4 linked regions of the Homo sapiens genome follow. The gene in region 3 interacts genetically with the main gene of each other region. Each region holds a gene or a part of one and is shown on either strand. Other genes may lie near its edges.

Region 1 (3,500 bases), on a different chromosome or scaffold from region 3:
TTAACATTCAGCTCCTTGTTACTTAACGCAAATTTCTACAGCTGGCTTAAATTTCTTCTCTTTGCTTTATAAATTACTTGGTGGTCTCAGCTCAGTGATCCAGTGATCTGAGTGATCTCAGGAAAAGAAAGAAATATTAGCAAATAAGAGAAACACCTTACATTGCCATACTCCTTTGACAGGTCATGTGAAAGTAATTTAAGTGATCATATCACTTAGCCTGCAGCTTGAATATTTGTCTCAGGCTAGGTTTTACTTTAGGTGCTTGTAGTATGTGTTTATGCACTAGAAAGTTAGTGTTATCATAGTTCCAGCATAAGGATGTCTTACTGTGCCAAATAAACAGTGGAATTCCTATATGTATCTTGATATTTGTTTCTTGTACACTGAATGAACTTAGGTACAATACACACAAGCCCACTTAACTAAAGGTCACATCTTTTTTTTTTTTTTTGACAGAGTTTCACTCTTGTTGCCCAGGCTGGAGTACAATATCTTGATCTAGGGTCACCTCAATCTCCACCTCCCGGGTTCAAGCGATTCTCCTGCCTCAGCCTCCCGAGTAGCTGGGATTACAGGCAGGCGCCACCATACCTGGCTAATTTTATATTTTTAGTAGAGACGGACGGGGTTTCTCCATGTTAGTGAGGCTGGTCTCGAGCTCCCGACCTCAGGTGATCCGCTCGCCTCAGCCTCCCAAAGTGTTGGGATTACAGGCGTGAGCCACCGCGCCCGGTCTAAGGTCACATCTTTTCTAATCATTTAGAACACAACCTAGAACCAGAAAGAAAGTAAACAAAAACAGGCCTGTACTCATGGGACAGCTGTGGAGTCTTCACCTATGAGTCATACCACCATCATAATTTTTGCCATTTAGAGTACTGTTGTTATTTTACTTCATGTTTAATGGGTTTTTTAAAAAAACATTGCCCACTTCCAAAGTGATAATCTGTGAAATCATGGTTTTTATGTATTTTATAGCTTTTTTAGCATCCATTATAATAAATACATAACTATTAAATATATAACTCTTTCATATGTAACAGTTAAAATCATATTCTTGCTCAGCACTTTGGAAGATACTGCTTTGGGCCTAATCAGCTCATTTTTAAAATGAAGATTGAACTAAAGCTTATGGGCTTGAAAATTCTGTGATCTCTATGATGATGTTCATTATCATAACACAATTCTAGCAAAGTTTACTGGTTCCACCAGATGAAAGTAGATTAGGGCCGGGCGGTGGTTCATGCCTGTAATTCCAGCACTTTGAGAGTCTGAGGCAGGAGGATCGCTTGAGCCCAGGAGTTTGAGACCAGCCTGGGCAACATGCCAAGACTGTCTCTACAAAAATTTTTTAAAAAACTAGCTGGACCTGGTGCCCAGTGCCTGTGGTCCCAGCTACTCAGAAGGCTGAGGTGGAGGATCGCTTGAGCCTGGGAGGTCAAGGCTCCTGTAGATTAAAATAACAAAAAGGAAAAAGAGGATGTTTGCTCTTTGATATCAGCTGCCTTTTTTTTTCCCTGAATTCAGGCTTTCCCCCGCCCCCGCCCCAATTTGGTTCCTTTATCTGCAACACTCTGGACATCTGTTTTTGAGCTATGTTTGTACTCCACATTGTGTATATATTAGCATGTATAATATTATAATGTTGCTTATCTCCAAGAGTGCTGAACTTTTTATTCCATTACTATATTTTGTTTCCAGATCTGTAGGTTGACAGACGGGCAGATGACAAGGACTGCTCTTTTCTTTTCCCTTTTTTTTTTTTTTTTGAGACAGAGTATTACTCTTGTTGCCCAAGCTGGAGTGCAATGGTGTGATCTCGGCTCACCGCAACCTCTGCCTCCTGGGTTCAAGTGATTCTCCTGCCTCAGCCTCCTGAGTAGCTGGGATTACAGGCATGCGCCACCACGCCTGGCTAATTTTTTGTGTTTTTAGGAGAAACGAGGTTTCACCATGTTAGCCAGGCTGGTCTCAAACTCCTGACCTCAGATGATCTGCCTGCGTTGACCTCCCAAAGTGCTGGGATTACAGGCATGAGCCACCTCACCCGGCCAGGACTGCTCTTTTTCTTTGCTGTGATAGGTAGAAACTTGAAACAGAAGGATCCAGTGCCTCTAACAATTAGAGGAAGTGGATTATGGAGCCAGGAAACAAAATGTACTGTGTTTTTTTAAATAGTAAGAGTAGAAGAAGCCCATTTGTATTCATTTAGATTCACTGACATTTTGGTTTGGGTTTCAATTTAGGTTGTATTGCTACTAAAGTATTTAAATCACTGATTCCTATGTTTTTCCAGAATTCTCTCTTCTTGTTGCTTTCTGTAAGTTCTGTAACTTAGATGTAAAGTTTGTTTAAATTTATTTTGACAGTGTTTTGGAAATTGAAATTACTTTCGATGGCCTTTCAATACTTATAAAACTCAAGCCAGGTGTGGTGGTGTGTCTGTAGTCCCAGCTACCTGGGAGGCTGAAGTAGGAGCATCAGTTGAGGTCAGGAGTTCAAGACCAACCTAGGCAGCATAGCAAAATAAATTTCAAACTTCTTGGTATAGTATACAAAGCTCTTCACAATATGTGTTCTGTCTTGAAAGCCATCCCCTGCCCTCCATACATACACACACACATTATATTCCTGCCTCACCACTGAAGCCTTACATTGTGGCTTTTTCTTCCTTTTTGATAATTTAATTTAAAATCATAATTTTTTGGACTTGATCATACTTGGATTTTGACCCACACAAATGAGAATCAGGGTGTTTGTGTTTTTTTGTTTGTTTGTTTTTTAAGACAGTCTTGCTGTGTCACCAAGGCTGGGGTGCAATGGCATGATCATAGCTCGCTGCAGCCTCAAACTGCTGAGCTCAAGTGATCCCCCTGCTTCAGCCTCCTGAGTAGCTGGGACTACAGGTGCACGCCACCAGGCCTGGCTGATTTTTTTTTTGTTGTTTAATTTTGTGTAGAGATGGGGGACTTGCTTTACTACCCAGGCTGGTCTCAAACTCCTGGCTTTAAGCAATCCTTTTGCTTTGGCCTCCTAATGTGCTGAGATTGTAAGCATGAGCCATCATGCCTGGCCAAAATCACGAGAGATATTTCATAATTATTATGAAAAGTTATAATAGTTTTATTGAGCACTGTGTGCCAGGCACTGCTCTAAATACTGTGCTTGAATTAGCTCAATCCATGTAACAACACTTAAAGTAAGCATTATTCTCATTTAATGAGGAAACTGAAGCACAGAAAAGTTAACAGTAATCAGGATTTGAAACCATTATGCCTTCAGATATTGGGCACATAACTACTATACTATGTTGTCTTTTGTATAAGCAAGAATGCCACTCTTTTCTGTTGGGGGTATCCTTTCCAGGGACGTGAGTGCTTATATTCTCTCTTTTTTTTTTTTTTTTTTTGAGACGGAGTCTCGCTCTGTCGCCTAGGCTGGAGTGCAGTGGCGCGATCTTGGCTGACTGCAAGCTCTGCCTCCCAGGTTCACGCCAT
Region 2 (3,500 bases), on a different chromosome or scaffold from region 3:
AACAATTAGCTTATTCCTTAGCTCACCATACATTTTTAAAAACCCAAACTTTTTTTTTTTTTTTTCCCTGAGACAGAGTCTAGCTCCATTGCCCAGGCTGGAGTGCAGTGGCCCAATCTCAGCTCACTGCAACCTCTGCCTCCCGGTTCAAGTGATTCTCATGCCTCAGCCTCCCGAGTAGCTGGGACTATAGGTGCACGCCACCACACCCAGCTAATTTTTTTATTTTTTGTAGAGACGAGGTTTCACCATGTTGGCCAGGCTGGTCTCGAACTCCCAACCTCAGGTGATCCGCCTGCCTCAGCCTCCCAAAGTGCTGGGATTACAGGCGTGAGCCACCATGCCCGGCCAGAAAACTAAACTCTTAAAAACTTGTACTAAATCTTAATAGCATTTTCTAGTTTACAATGAATGTCCCAATAATAAACTACAAAGCTCCACACATGTGTATGCTCAAAAAATATCTCGTGTAGGTACACTTTTAAAGTCAATGCTTTCACATAAAATTTGCAAAGTTTCCAAATGAGGAAAATACGAGCAAGCTGTTGAGTAAAACAACCTTCACCATCAGACACTGCTGCAAAGTGACGGCATTCACTTACTGGCTCTGTGTATTCTCTCCCGGACTTCCATGTATTCCTGTTCGTGCTTTACAGCTGTCATCGCCACTGCTAGCTCATTGATCATTTCTTCTAGCTTGTTCTGGTGAGCTATAGAAGGATTTGAAAACAAAACACATTTGTCAATGTCTTTTTTTTTTTTTTTTTGAGACAGAGTCTCGCTCTGTTGCCCAGGCTGGAGTGCAGTGGTGCTCAATCTCAGCTCACTGCAACCTCTGCCTCCCAGGCTGAAGCGATTCTCCTGCCTCAGCCTCCAGAGTAGCTGGGATTACAGGCACACGCTGCCACACCCAGCTAATTTTTGTATTTTTAGTAGAGACGGGGTTTCACCATGTTGGTCAGGCTGGTCTTGAACTCCTGACCTCAGGTGATCCACCTGCTTGAGCCTCCCAAAATGCTGGAATTACATGCGTGAGCCACTGCACCCAGCCATCTTTTTTTTTTTTCAAGACAGGATCTCACTCTATCACCCAGGCTCAAGTACAGTGGTGCAATTATAGCTCACTGTAACCTAAAATTCCTGGGCTCAAGCAATCCCCTGCCTCAGCCTCCTGAGGGGTGCGTCACTATGCCTGACTACCATTTTATTTTTATTTTTTAGAGACGGGGTCTCGCTATGTTGCCTAGGCTGGGGCAATCTCTTTTTGAAAAACACTTATAAAATAAATATAAAATATAAAATAATATAAAATAACTTTTCAAAATCCTCAGAGAAGGCCTGCAAAAGAAGCTACTTTTGAAATGGTTCAAACATCAATTTGGACTACTGATATGAATCATGTCAATTTAATTCTCAAAGCATTTTTAAAAGTCCCTTCCCAGTAGAGAAACCTCTTTCAGGGTAGGAAACATACTATATAATGCTTACTAAGGAAAGGAAAACAACCCCAGGAAATTTCTTCTAATGGAATGTTGTTATGTGAAGTTCACTATACTGACTATTAACTACAGCAAAAGTAGTAAAACACTGAGGAGAGGGGACTAAGAGCACAAAATAAATACCTGTATTTTTAAAATGTAATCCTACAAATAAAGTCTAAGAGTCATGTAACTCTAATATTAATTAAGAAGCAGGAGCAGCACCAAAACAGACTCTTAATCTCTATAAAGCTGAGCAGAGAAAAACATTAAAACGCTCTTAGGAAAATCCACACCAACTCAAACATTCTTCTTTGACAAAGTAATAGTTTCACTATAGTGGGGAACAGCAGGCAATGTAAGTAGAGAGACAAGCCCTTAGCGGCACAAGTTTTCAACCAGGCATCCCTCTTGAACCAAAAATACACACAAGGCACTGTTCTGAAGAGTAAGCATGTGCTTCTAGGTAGTGCCACGTTATGAGAATGAACAGACAGGCAGGAGAGAAACAGCACCAGGAAACCTTCCTGGGAAAGGGGGATCTCTTCATCCCTGCCCAAGACTGGGTCTCTTCTGGGATTCCAGATTCTCGCAGACAACCCCAAGTTTCTTAGGAGAAACCAAGGGCCTCTACCATTGAAGGCAGTTGAATTGGAATGTCAAACCGTCCCTCACTCGAAATTTCCCTTTGGAAGCCCCATGCACCACATGGAACTGATAGAGCAGGGTTTCTCAGCAGTGGCATTGTCTCCATTTTGGACCAAATGCTTTTCTATGCTGTGGGGCGCTATCTGATGCACTATAGGGTATTTAGCAGCCTCCATGGCCTCCAGTCCTAGATGCCTGTAGCACCTACCCCCAGTCTTCCGAATAAAAAATACCTCCAGATATTGCCAAATATCCCCTGGGCATCCTCACTTGAGAACCACTGCTTTAGAGGAAGGCTTGATTTGACAGCTGCCATTCACTGACATTAACAAGCAAAAGCAAGAATTTTGGATATATGTTAAAAAATTATCTAAGAAGTTCAATATTCACATTCATCAACCAACATTTTCAAACTATTTAAGTAGGATCAAACTCCAGAAAATAAACCAAAAAAGCCTTTCAGAACTCCTCATTCTCCCTGAAAATTAGTCAAGTCCTACCCTATAAGTGGCCCTGAAAAATGAGTGCAGGAATTACTAAGTAGTAGGACTCTCTAAATTCTATAGATTTCAAAATCCAACCAAACAACTCAGCTTCTTTATGATGTTAACACTCTACTGATACTGAATATCTGGGAGAAATGTTACCACGCTAATAGTATACTATGAAATGTGTGAAACAATGACTAGCTTCAAAAACTCTGGCATGCACTGTGGGGAAAAAAAAAACAAAAAAAAACACCACCAAATGTGCTGGCTCCCGGTAAGCAATTTATCCAGAACCACCAAGAACCAATCAGGGTTTATTACTGGTAACCTGAGCAATGAACACTCTAACTGCAACATATGGCTAAAAGAACTCTTGTCTTCATATCAACATATGGCTCCTAGAACTGCATTTCATATCCAACTAAGCTTCAGGTTAAGAAGTCTACAAAATGACTTTCTACAAAGTCAAAGGCACCATTTGCTATGAGCTATGTTTAATTGGGACTTCTGTCCCCTTATCATTGAATTTCCACTCTTTAGCATTCATCTTAAAGAACAAAGATGTTACTACTAAAATGTCAACTGTGTTTTCAGTGCTATTAGTTTAAAATAACCTAACCTATACCTCCTGTCAACGAAATAAAAAACCACCAAAAAAAATATCAATCCAATTAGTTGTAGGGGTTTTTTAAGAGAAAAAAACACTCTCATGCCAACAAACTGAGGTTAGAAAAAAGAAAGCAGAAATTAGACATTAGCAAACAAAAAGATGCAAAAAGGATGCTGTCAAAAAGCAATCCACATACCATCCCAGGTATCTCCACCACCTAAAGAAAAGTTAAGATATCTTAACACAAAAAGAACCAACAAAAAGTTTAGCTAAACT
Region 3 (3,500 bases):
CTTTACAAAAACAGTAAAGGACATGGTCTTAAATTAGTCTTCTCCCAAAAAGTGAGACCTGAGGTGGGCATACAATGATAAACAGAATTTGTGCACATGGAGGCTTAATATGGCAGAACACCAAGAAAAGAGACCAGATGGAATGATTAGGGATTGTCTGATGCAGTAAAAAAAAAAACTGTCTGAGAGAAATGGAAGAAGTGAATGCCGGATAGTTTTGTTTTGCTCATTTCAGCACAGGAACAGGATACAAACGGCCAGAGCTCAACTGGAACTTGCAGTGGAATGGCACATCCATAAATCACTGGGCTGGTTCATAATATCACTACCACTATCATGCCTACATTATCTCATTTGGACTACTATGAAAATGAGTTTTGCTGCCTATAAAAATACTAAAGGATTAGAAACCAGAGACTGAGCCTATAGGGACTAGAGTCTTCTTCAGTGACATTCAGATTTTTTTTTTTCCTTCAAATGAAATCTTACCAATGACCCCAATACATAAACTGATAAAATCTGAACTGCTCTGGTTACAGGAGGTGCCCTGAAATTCTGCTTGAGGGCTTCTATATAATCACTGTGGTTGTAAAATTTGTCCAGGTGAGTAGAAACTACTCACTTGACAGAAAGGTTAGCACCCACCGAGACAGTGAACAGAAGAAGCAGAACTAGAATCCAGGAATGCTGACACTCAGAGAAGGGCTCTTCCTACTATATTCCATGTCGCTTCTAAAAACCAAATGAAGAAAATATGATTCATACTTACCATCTCTGTTCAGCCATTGCTTTCTTGTTCTGTACAAAAGGAGCTTGTTGTGGACATATGGTAAAAGGAACTTGACACACCAGCTCTCCACACCCAGTTTGTTTTCAACCAGGACTATGGGACTCCGGTTATACCTAGCTTCAGGACATGGGATCAGGCCAATTTCATCTCTTAATATGTAAAACATAAAAAAGAATTAAAAATAAGGATACTAACCTTTTCAACATTTTTCTAATTTCAGAGTATTTTAAAAACCCCACATATTTCCCCCTTCCTTACAAATATTATTTAGCTCACTTACTGGGATTGGTAGATGCTAATAGTGGCAAGAGTATGAGAAAACCAGTATGCTGTACTCTCTGTAGACAGGAGTGAAAACTGGTCTTGCCTTTGGATGGCAACTTAAAAAAAAGTCTTTCAAAATTTTGAAGGAACATACCCTTTGATCCAGCAATTCAACTGCTCAGAAATTATCCTATGCCAAAATATGTGAATCAGATGTTCACTGCAATGTTGCAACAAAACTAGAAACAATCTAAATGTTTATCAATATAAGACTAGTAAAAAAAAAAGGCCCATCCACATAATCAAGCCATTAAAAAACAATGAGGTAGATCTGCATATGCTGACATAAAAAAAGTTGCCAAGATATATGAAATGAAAACAAAAAGCAAAATGCTGAACACAGTGTACAGCACAAATCCTTTTGTATAATTTCTTTAGAAGATATATAGATGCATTAAAAATTTTCTTGGAAGGATAACAAGAAATTTTTGGAGAGAGAAAGGTGGTAAGGAAGGATTTTATTTTTATACAGTTTCAATTATCTAATAATTGTATGTATTTCTATTTTTTTAATGTCAACAAATGTGTTTATGCTTGCTTGCTAATAAATGCATGTGGACCAGAAACAAAGTATCAAAAAACGTTATTTTATCAGTGAGATTTTGGGCCATTTTTTCTTCTTTATATTTTCCTGAATTAAAAAACCACCCAAATAAATGTTAAAACACAAAATACATTTCAGAATTCAATAATTTTCCTCTGTGGTAGCATCTATATCCCTCAATCCACCTCAACTTAAGCTGAAAATTTACATTAAAGGCAGAGATTTAATAAACAATATGTAGGGCATTTGACTTACTTAGTAAATGAACCAGCAAACGTAAAAAATTTGTGCAAAACACATTCACATGCCTTTCAACTCTAAAGGAAGTTATAATTCTTGCCTACACAAAGGATCCTTTCTCAAACAGAATGTCCTCTGTTTAATTAATGAATAACAAGAAACTTTTTAACAATAAGAGTAGTTGAAATAAATGTTTTTAGAGTGTCTATATAGATATTTTAAACATGTCTTTAAAAAGCAGAATAATGAACTGGTTTTCAGAGTTTGTGTGTGACATTATGTATTATGTCCCTGGCATCCCCTTACCAAGAACACAGTGGTTTGATAGACCCAAAAGAGGGAAATTGGTTGAATTACAAAGTAGGAGAAACACCCTGTCTTTTTGTTGGGCCACTATCACAAATTGGTAGGAGGCTGTGGATTTAAAATAAAACCCCTCCTGGAAACTAAACTGAATAGCTTAGAGGTAATCTACTTTCTACTGATCACTTCATTAGTGGCACAGGGATTTATCAATAAAAAGGATATCTTAGGGGTTGCAAGACACTAACAATTCTTTCAAGCTAATTTAACTCTCAAGAAGACTGTGGGATCTATGGGTTTTTATCCTTACAATTGGTTCCGTTGACTCAAAGGTGTTTTGATATACTATATCAATACTATCATAAGTTTTCTGATTAACTACAATGTACTGGGTGCTTTCTTAGGTTCTAAAATTCAAAAAGAATAAAGCAAAGTGGTCTCAGACTTCAAAGAGCTAAAGTCTTGCTGGGGATCTGTGTCAATATCCATAATAAAATGTTACCACTTTACTACTCCAATAATATAAACAAAGTCCTGTAGGAAGAATAAGGACAAAGCTGAAAGAGCACCTGAGGTCAATGCCCAGTATTTCAAAATATATTTTGTGCATCTCTATTTGGTAGTATCCTGAAATCTATCTAATTCATTATTATGACCCCTAGCCATATCTAGCTATACTTGACTAATATATGACTGAATCTCTGGTATTTTCTGATGTTTGTGTTTTACTACATGAAGAATATTAAAAAATAAAGTAAAACTAAATAAGTAAATAAACTCAATGTGATTATTTCAGGAAATTCTGTTCTCTGAGATATAATAACCTACTTACAACACTTCAAAGAACTGCAAGAGTCAACAATATAACTGTTATAGTAACAAGAATAAAAGAATCCTGTTTCTGGGTATGGTTTGTTTTTGGGGGGGATTTTTTTTTTAAACTTAAATTCACAATATAAAAACCTGTCTTGCTCACTAATTAAACTAGGATTAAAATGCCCAGCTAATAATTTGGTATCTAAACTACAGAAAAGAGCCATCTGCACAATTAAAAAACACACTGCTTTGACTGTCTGTTCTTTCAAGAAATACTTTATAAAATAAGAATGGCTTGGATATAGCAGGTGCCCAATAGCTGCTTCCTGAAAGGCTGATTATCCTGGTACTTTAGTGATAATATTCAAATTAATAGTTTTCACTTCTTGTCCCTCTAAAAGAACATTATCTCTGATTTTCTCCTAATAAAGTATACTGAAAACAGCATGTGTCCAAGTCCTGGATGGAAATAGATATATACAC
Region 4 (3,500 bases), on a different chromosome or scaffold from region 3:
TTCCCCCTCTGGAGTAAAACTCAGCTTCTTGCAAGAACTAGACTATCCCATTTTTAATGACCCTAAAATGTCATCTACTTATAAGAAGGGGAACTGAAAGTGAATGACACAACGTAAACCAGTCTGCTAAAGCTACGAATGGGACTCCGTTCTGCAGGAATGGCACACAACCTCAACCCAAAGTGGGAAACAGCAGCTACTGTTGGTCTCACCCATGGCCACTGGTATGTCCGTCCAGTTCAGGGCACATTTCTGTGTGCAGATCCCTTCCTCATTGAGTACCACGGTGAGATCATCCTGGCCCACAGCCACTTTTCCATCTGCCAGAGGTGCAACTAAGGGCTCCAGCTGTTTTCCTGTTGGAAAGAGCTCTTTGATGGACCCCTTTCCATCCACCTATAGGAAGAAACAGAGTGAGTCACCTAGCATTCCCCAGCCAGAGGTAAGAACACAGGAAAAATCCAGATAGAACCCGAAACCTAGAGAAGCCAATAATATTCCTTGTTTGACATAAGAAAATGTTACAGAGTTTATTATAATAACCGTTGTTATCACAATGTAAAACCCGTTCTCTAATGCAAAGGAAAGCATCTAGCCTGGCAACTGACAATGCCAGGTGCTGGCAAGAATGCAGAGCAACTAGAACTCACATTCACTGCTGGTGGGAATGCAAAATGGTGCAGCTGTTTTGTTTGTTGGTTTCTTACAAAGTTTAAGATACACTTGCCATATGCCCCTTAAAGATACACTTACCATATGCCCCAGCAATCCCATTCCCAGGCATTTGCCCAGGAATGCCAATGTATGTTTACACAAACGCTTGTATGCAAATGTCTTAGATGCTTATTCAAAATTGCTAAAAATTGAAAACAACTTTTTTTTTTTTTTTTTTTGGAGACAGTCTTGCTCTGTCGCCCAGGCTGGAGTGCAGTGGCACAATCTCAGCTCACTGCAACCTCCGCCTCCTGGGTTCAAACAATCCTCCTGCCTCAGCCTCCTGAGTAGCTGGAACTACAGGCGTGTGCCACCACGCCAGGCTAATTTTTTTTTTTGTATTTTTAGTAGAGATGGGGTTTCACCGTGTTAGCCAGGATGGTCTCAATCTCCTGACCTCGTGATCCACCCGCCACGGCCTCCCAAAGTGCTGGGATTAAAGGTGTGAGCCACCGCGCCTGGCCAAAATCAACTTTGTCCATCAACTGATGAATGGATAAACAAACACCTTGCCATAGACTACTATTCAGCCATGAGAAAGAATAAACTATTAACACACACAACAACATGGATAAATCTCCAGTGCATTCTGCTAAGTGAAAGAAGCCAGACTCAAAAGCCTACATATTGTGTCATTCAATTTATATGACATTCTGGAAAAGGCAAAGCTATAGGAGATGAAGAACAGATGAGTGGTTACCAGAGGTCTAGGAACAGAAGGAGAGGCTGACTTCAATATGAGGGAATTTTGGGGGGTGATGGTAGTGTTGTGAATCTCGATTGTGGCATTAGTCACATAAATCTAAGCATTTGTCAAAACACAGAACTGTACACCAAAAAGAATAAATTTTACTGTATGTAAATAAGTAATTTCTGAATAGCCTGGTCCTAAAGCAAGGTTTCCCACCCTGAAGGTGATGTCAGCATCCAAGGCAGTCAGAGAACTGAGAGCCTTAAGTCCAGCTTTTGCTCAGTTCCCTTATTCCTTGTGCGCTCTCTCACCATCTGTAGGCCTACTTGCTATTGAGTCAGTGGCACAGCAGTGACTCCTCCAGGAGTCTGCAACTCTGATGCTGATAAAATCAGGATATTCAAATGACACAAAGATGGAACAAATATATTAACAAGATAACAATGGGGCCAGGCATGGTGGCTGTAATCTCAGCACTTTGGGAGGCTGAGGCAGGAGGGCTGCTTGAGCCCAGGAGTTTAAGACCAGCCTATGCAACATATTGTGACCCCATCTCTACAAAAATACAAAAAAAAAAAAAATACAAAAATTAGCTGAGCATGGTGGTAGGCATCTGGGCTACCTGGGAGGCTGAGGTGGGAGGACTGCTTGAGCCCAGGAGACGGAGGCTGCAGTGAGCCAAGATCCTGCCACTGCACTCCCGCCTGGGTGACAGAGGGGTACCCTGTCTCAAATAAAATAAAATAACCAATGAAGAGCTCACCCAGTGGAAGGTAGAGAGAGAGGCTTCTAGAATTGCCATGTCTGAATTACAAGGGGTGTGAAGCTAAGAGATTTAGATTATTCAATGAAACGAACAGTGTGTCAATCTTTTCTACATATAGTATGCATATTGGAGAAAAACAACGTCATGGATATTTACAACTTACGTTAAGAGAAAACACAGGTCATAAAACAATTGTATAGCATAGTATTTTTACCAATAGGATGGAAGTTCATATACCAAGAAGTTGGCAGTGACTATTTCTGAGTGGGGGGACTATGGTTGATTTGCACTTCCTTTATCTCCTTATCTATATTTTCTGTAATAAACACGTGTAAAAACACGTGGCTTTTGAAATTTAAAAAAATAGTGAGAATCACTTTTAGTACAAACATACAAAAAGATTTGACGGCAGGAGAGGAAACTCAAAGTCTTAAAAATACTTAAGTTTATACTAAAATTAGTTTAAAATTCCTAAGCACTGAAGCCTTAGGATAGCAGTCCATGATGATCCACTGGACAGAGGCAAACAGCCTTCATTATCTGTCCCAATAGTAAAATACACACTGTGGATCATCATTACGTAAAGAACTGAGCGTTGACTCTTGGACTGACTTAAGTTACAAAGATATCCTATTTGTGAAAAATGCTGAGCATGAATGATAACTACACATACAAATAACAAATCCTGTTATGCCAAAAGCTCTACTTAAAGTGGTCGCTTGACCTGGAGTTTGGAGCAGATAATCATCTTCCCCAAGATAAACTAATGATATTTGCAAAATAATAAGATTTTACCCTTATTAGGTAGTAGTCTCTCTTGAAACCCACACAGATAGAATTTTCACACCACGCCATGGACTTGGGCACATCTGGCACACTAAAGTCCCCCTGAAAAAAGAGAGCAAGGATCTGAATGAAATAAATATTTTTTTAAAAAATCATGACTTTCCTGTTATTCTGCAACCTCCATTCTGCAAAACAACCCTCACCCTCATCGGGCACAATTCTACAGGCACAAGGCCAGGAAACTACCCTTAATAAAAATACAAGTCCATGAACTGGACAAAGTACATTTGGAAAAGGTGAAAACCCACTTTGAAATAAACCAATCTATAAAAACACTGTAGAATCATATTACAAGTAGGCATCAACAAGCTCTCATGCACTTCATACCAGAGTATTCATTTGCGTAGAATGACAAGACTGGAGTCCTGAACTTCACTAGAACCGAGCCACTGCAGCAGCTCCCACCCAACCATGGACCAAGGAACAGTGGACTTACCTGCAATTCATGAAATTCCCTGTCCTTCCAGAAATAGAGCTGCAGCT

The links.
Region 1: changes in PTAR1 (region 3) and SNAP23 are lethal when combined (synthetic lethality), as found in Homo sapiens cells (one study listed by BioGRID).
Region 2: changes in PTAR1 (region 3) and TMED2 are lethal when combined (synthetic lethality), as found in Homo sapiens cells (one study listed by BioGRID).
Region 4: changes in PTAR1 (region 3) and VPS39 are lethal when combined (synthetic lethality), as found in Homo sapiens cells (one study listed by BioGRID).

What each region holds. Positions count from the first base shown.
Region 1 is NC_000015.10:42,498,634-42,502,133, forward strand, and holds part of SNAP23 (synaptosomal-associated protein 23), read left to right. Parts: intron 1-3,500. UniProt on the Homo sapiens protein: Essential component of the high affinity receptor for the general membrane fusion machinery and an important regulator of transport vesicle docking and fusion.
Region 2 is NC_000012.12:123,587,552-123,591,051, reverse strand, and holds part of TMED2 (transmembrane emp24 domain-containing protein 2 isoform 1 precursor), read right to left. Parts: intron 3,442-3,500; coding exon of another isoform or gene 3,421-3,441; intron 711-3,420; coding exon 603-710; intron 1-602. UniProt on the Homo sapiens protein: Involved in vesicular protein trafficking. Mainly functions in the early secretory pathway but also in post-Golgi membranes.
Region 3 is NC_000009.12:69,750,012-69,753,511, forward strand, and holds part of PTAR1 (protein prenyltransferase alpha subunit repeat-containing protein 1), read right to left. Parts: intron 940-3,500; coding exon 770-939; intron 1-769.
Region 4 is NC_000015.10:42,184,305-42,187,804, forward strand, and holds part of VPS39 (vam6/Vps39-like protein), read right to left. Parts: coding exon 3,454-3,500; intron 3,060-3,453; coding exon 2,967-3,059; intron 397-2,966; coding exon 213-396; intron 1-212. UniProt on the Homo sapiens protein: Regulator of TGF-beta/activin signaling, inhibiting SMAD3- and activating SMAD2-dependent transcription.